2 separate regions of the Homo sapiens genome follow, and region 1 is linked to region 2. The links come from fine-mapping of genetic effects on gene expression. A gene starts in region 2. The other region holds a variant in brackets. All regions are shown on one strand. Distances are between the middles of the regions. Region 1 overlaps MYO15A (myosin XVA). Region 2 holds the start of MYO15A (myosin XVA).

The links. PIP is the estimated chance that this variant, and not a neighbour inherited with it, causes the effect.
Region 1: its variant is the best candidate, but not a certain one, in a credible set for the expression of MYO15A in sigmoid colon (GTEx, PIP 0.68).

The regions. Positions count from the first base shown.
Region 1 is chr17:18,135,666-18,138,165 of GRCh38, forward strand. MYO15A (myosin XVA) reads left to right here. Exons shown (of 66, transcript NM_016239.4): 13 at 46-159; 14 at 752-810; 15 at 898-1,021; 16 at 1,919-2,014; 17 at 2,450-2,500. Among named protein-coding and RNA genes, the nearest start is that of MYO15A, 28 kb to the left of the region's middle. RefSeq lists enhancers at 1-445, 446-1,439. The variant C/T (reference allele first, on the strand shown) is at 1,425.
Region 2 is chr17:18,107,344-18,110,355 of GRCh38, forward strand. It overlaps MYO15A (myosin XVA), which reads left to right and starts at 1,413. Exons shown (of 66, transcript NM_016239.4): 1 at 1,413-1,481. It overlaps DRG2 (developmentally regulated GTP binding protein 2), which reads left to right. Exons shown (of 13, transcript NM_001388.5): 13 at 1-626. LOC105371566 (a long non-coding RNA gene) reads right to left here. Exons shown (of 3, transcript NR_164159.1): 3 at 348-1,292. RefSeq lists an enhancer at 1-356.

The DNA of each region.
Region 1 (2,500 bases), 28 kb after region 2:
TAGCCTATCTAGTTCAAAGCACATTCCTGTTGGTATTTTGCATAGACGGATGCACAGGAGGTGGCCTCAGTGGTGAGTGCCCGAGAGATCCAGGCCGTGGCAGAGCTGCTGCAGATCTCCCCTGAGGGCCTGCAGAAGGCCATCACCTTCAAAGTGACCGTGAGTCTGTGGGCATCTGGCCTTCGAACAAAGCTTTCTACCAGGGCCTGGACAGAGCTGCTTGTGCCGATCCTTTGTGGGCAGCCTCTCCCTCTCTCCTGCTCTCTCTGTCCCTGGGTCAGGCATGGAGGGGAGTAATTTCAGACCCCAGAGACATTTCAGATTCCAGTCTCAGACTGTTGCATAGGCTGTTTCCTCTACCCGGAATGCTCTTCCTCTTTTCACACCTACTCATCCTTTAAGACCCTATCCAGGTATCCCCTCCTCTAAGAAGCCTTCCCTAATCTTTGGACGGGTCAGTGCCTCCTCTGGTCTTTCACAGTCCTAGGCCCATTCTCCCTTCCCAGGGTTGATCTCATTGTATCTGCTGATGCCTCTGTCTCCCCCATTAGACCTGCAGTCCCCACTACTACCAGCATTTCCAGGCAGAGTCAGAGTGGGGGCAGGGGTGGTCCTGCCTAGTCTCTGTGTGCACAGTCACAACATCCCTCCAGCCTCCCTTCTCCATGATCCCACTCCCTTAGTCCCCTGGGGGCTTTCCGGAGGCAGAGTGGCCAGCCTGATGTCACTCAAGGGCTGTGCCCGTCCCTAGGAGACAATGCGAGAGAAGATCTTCACGCCCCTAACTGTGGAGAGCGCTGTGGATGCCAGGTGAGGCCACGCCCTCCCCTGCCTGAGCCCCGAGGCCCAGCACCCCACCACGGTGTCCTGCTCACACCAGCACCACCTCTGCTCCAGGGACGCCATCGCCAAGGTCTTGTATGCACTGCTGTTCAGCTGGCTCATCACCAGGGTCAACGCGCTGGTGTCCCCAAGGCAGGACACACTGTCCATCGCCATCCTGGACATCTATGGTTTCGAGGTGGGGCCGTGTAGGAGGCTGAGGGGCGGGGGACATAGGCAAGGTCTCGCCTCCCTCAGGCGTCTCGGGCTGCCCTTCCCATCCCTTTCTGTGCCTGCAGCAGGTGCCATCCTCCCTTCATGGACCCCTCCCTGTCACCATCTCCCTTGTCTCCTTCCATTTTCTTTACTCACCACAAGTACTCCCAAGGCCTCTGGGCCAGGCCCTGTGCTGGGCAATACCAGCTGCCCAGAAAGGACCAGCCAGGGCCCTGCCCTTGGGGAGCTTCCAGGTGAGGCTGGGTGGGGAAGGCTTCCTGGATGAGGATGAGACACTCCTGAGACCCAGCAAAGGCACTGTAGGTGCAGGGAACAGAATATGCAAGGGCTGGGAGGGGTGGCGGGTCATGAGGTCTGGGACTGGA[C/T]TTCGTGTGTTGGGGGGTGACTGTTTTGTGAGTGCACAGCAAAGGAAGTGGTGAGGGACAGGGCAAGATCACCATGCAGCCATCACAGGCACTCACGTGGCACCTGTTATGTGCCAGGTGCTGTTTAAAGCACTTTGTTAATTCACTTCATCCTTACAGCAACCCTATGAGGCAGGTACTGTCAGTATCCTCATTTTACAGATGGGGAAACTGAGGCATGGGGCTGTTATTCAAGGTTATGTAGCTAGAAAATGGCAGAGCCAGCATTTGAACCCAGGCAGAAGGCCCCAGAGCCTTGGCCTTCAGGCACTGCCTGTGCTGTCAGGACAGAGCCTGTCAGATTCTGTCCTGGGTGCAGCAGGAGCTGTGGAGGGTTGTGAGCTGAGGGCCTGTGGCTGAGCTCCAGCTTTTTGAAGTTGCCACCAGGGAAGGTAGGGGCAAACAGGCTGGTGGCCAAGGAAGGACCAGTCCCAGCACCCCCATCCACCTGGCAGGACCTGAGCTTCAACAGCTTTGAGCAGCTGTGTATTAACTACGCAAACGAGAACCTTCAGTACCTTTTCAACAAGATCGTCTTCCAGGAGGAGCAGGTGTGTGGGCCCCATTAATACTCCTGTCCCTGTCTTGACTGGCCAGTGGACCTCCTTGGAGACAGATGAGGATATACTGGTTGTTTAAGGGCAATTCTGACATCAGTAGACAGTAGAGGGAAAGGCATTCTAAGCTGGGGACCAGCCCATGGGAAGGCCTCTGTTCTGGAGGGAAAGGTGCTGAGGTGCTGTGCTCAGAGAGGAGTCCCCTTGGTGGGGGTCCTTCTTCTCCTCTACTGGGCTGTCCCAGGCAGAGGGAGCAGCAGGACCCTGAGTTGGCTCATGCTGCCTTATTAGGGGGTGAGCTCCCTGTTCTGGGAGGTATGCAAGCAGAGGTGCTGCTGGCCAGGCTCCTTCAGATTCAACATGGGAGGGAGGGTGGGTGGGCCCTGGACAGGGATGGGAGGTTGAGCTCCTGCTGCCCACTGCCTGCAGGAGGAGTACATCCGTGAGCAGATAGACTGGCAGGAGATCACCTTTGCTGAC
Region 2 (3,012 bases):
CAGGAAGGGGTCCCTCAAGTCTCTGCTATTTACAGAAGTTTCTTCAGTAGGCAGACGAAGAGTGTGTTGGGGCAAAGGGGCTCGGTTGGAGGCATTTCCCATAAGACTGAGCCCTCTCATGGGGGTTTTGAGTTTGTAGTGCTGAGCCTGCATCTGTGCCTCCCAGCCCCCTGCACTGAGGGAGCAAGTTGCCCACATGCCCGCCAGCCAGGGCCTAAAGCAGATGGCATGCTCAGTGCCAGGCTGGTAGCTGGGCCTGTTTGGGTCCCTGGAGGCTGTGGCTGCTGTCATGGCACCTCACTCCCTCAGCTCTTGCCAGCTTCTCTGACACTTGGGTTGGGGGCCCTTCCAGGAGGAAACCCCCTTGGGTGCCCCACACAGGGCTCTCCATGATGGGAACCAGTGGTTAGTGGCTTCAAAGGCCCAGCTGACACCCTCCACAGCCTAAGGGGTGTCCTAAAGTGCCTCCCCCTGTATTCCCCCTCCCAGGGCAGCCCCTGCCCAGCACAAAACCCCAGGACCCTGGCTCTGCACGCCTGGGGCAGGGACTTTTGAGTTTAGGATCTGTATTTTCTAAGTCCCCAGTTCTCCTGGCTCTCCTTTCTGAAATAAAGGATTGAAAACGGTTCCTGTTCAGACTGAGAACACTTTGTAAACTTGCTGAACAGTAGCCAGGTTGAGTCAGGTGGGCACAGGTCAGACATTGGGCCTGGGGGTCGGAGAGGGTGCAGCCTGGGCCCCAAGGCAGACCCAGGCCTTGTGTGGCAAGGAGACTGCAGGGTTCCTCACCCAGGCACAGGCAGGCTCTGCCCAGGGGGTTGGTGTTCGGGGGTGTCAGGCCCAGACTGGCCCCTCCGGAGGGGCCTGGCTGCCAAGGTGGGCAGCATCCCAGGAGGCCCTTGTGACCATCTGGGCTGGCAGGGAGGCTCTGTGAGAACAAGGTGGCGGGTCATTTCCTGTTGCCTCAGAAGTCAGGAGTAGAGGGGCTGGCAGGGGCTCGATGAGTGCCTACCGTGTGCCAGGGACTGTGCCAGGCCCCCCACAGTGTTCTGCTGTCCCCCAGAAGCTGGTGTAGGCTGCACAGTTTGTGAGTGCAGACCCCGGATTTAAGACCTCTGAGCAGCGGGGAAGGCTTCCTGGAGGAGGTATGCCTTTTGAGATGGATGCAGCAGGTTCTGTGAGGCTGCCAGGAGGGGTAGAGTTCCCGGGGGCCTCGGGCCCCGCTGGAGTGTGGAGCAGGCCCATGCTCAGCTCTCCAGGCTGTTCGTGGCTCCCCTGTCAGCTGCTCACTCCTTTCCAGAGACAAAACAGGAATAATAGACATCATTAAATATACATAGGGCCCCAGGCGGTCGGCGTGGTGGGCTGGGCCTCCCTTCCCCATAACACTGAGCTGCTCTGCTGGGCCAACCGTGCTCCTGGGCCAGCCAGAGGACCCCCATGAGGCGGCATGCAGGCGGGGAGCAGGCCACAGAACGCAGGTAAGGAGACCTTAGCCTAGAGTCCTTGGGGTCTGTCACTGGCCACCCTCGCATCCCAGGCTGCAGGGGTGATAAGGGAAGGGGCAGCAGCAGAGCTGGGGCCTCGCCCCTAACTCATCTTGAGGCCCTTCTCTGCCTCACTTTGTTCATCTGTGAGGGGTGTGATGCCCATGCAGTCCCCTCCTGGCGATGGTGGGATACCAAGACAGGCAGGGCCTCTGTGGCTTACCTCGGCCCCTCTCCTGACTGTCCTGATGCCTGGCCATGAGGCCCTAAGTGAGGGTTTCTGCCTGGCTGGTGGCCATTCCCACTTCCACTTTACAGGTAGGGGCTCTGGGCCCAGGGTGAGGTAGGGAAGGCCTTGAGTTCACAGGGTGTCAGGGTGAGTCCAGACCTTGGATTAGATCCAGACCTGTTTTGTCCCCAAGGCTGGCTGGCAAAGGGTGGGAAATGAGGCCAGAGGCTGGGGGTCCTCAGGCAGTGAGGGCTCAGGTGAGAGGCTCCAGCCACTGGGCCACAAGTTCCTCACCGTGGATGGGCTTGTTCCTGGGCTAGATCTGTGTGCGCGTGGATCAGGGCAGGCACTGCGGCTCTGTTATGTCCTGGGCTTTCTGGATCTGTGGTCAGGATGGTTGCGCAGTCTACATTTGCTTGTGAGAGAGCGAGCAAGGGATCCTGCAGCTGCGTATGCCCAGGTCAGTGTGAAGTGGCAGCTTGCGGTGCCTTTAGGGCTGGGGAAGCTCCCTAAGACCCCCCAAAGGTCTCTGACCCTCCCATCCCCGCACCTGGGTAAGCTCCAGGCTTGGGCCTCACCCTGTCAGCCACCTTGTTCTCATCACCCTCCCTGATGATCACAGGCAGGGGTCTGCACCCTCACTCAGGCCCATGCCCAGGCAGCAGAGTTGCATTCATCTCCCAGCTGGCATCCCTGCAGCCTCCCGGGGGTAGTATGGCCTGCAGCTTTAGAAGACTCAGGTACATAGGAGCCAAAGACATGAATATTCATCTATCTGTCCCACACGTGTGCGTTCACTCATTCTCCGTCTTTCTTCCTCTCCAGCTTAGATTCCACAGTTTCTCATTTCGGAACCCTCCTTTGGCAAGAAAGCCGAGTCGAGACCCTCTCCTTCCCACTCTGTCCCTCTCCTAGACAGCTCACCTGACCTCCAGCTTCCATCTCGCCAGACCTGGGTCCGAGCAGCCTTTTTGACTCTCCACTGCACTGTCCTGTAGCCATCCCAAGCCCACCGTGTCCCAGACCAAACATGGCGTTCCCATACCCCCGGCCTCACCTCAGAGACACTCCCCGCACCCCCCAGCTGCACCAAGCCAACCCCAAGACTACTTGTCTCCACCCTCATCCCAGCCCCATCTAGCCTCTCACCAGGGCCAGCCTGTTTCACCTCATCCTGAATGTGTCCGCTGTACACCATCACAGCATGCTCCCAGCTGTGTCATTGTCCCCTCTCCATTCTTTTCCACATGGCAGCCCGAGCTTCTTTTTATAATATTTTCTAAGAAGCCATGTGAG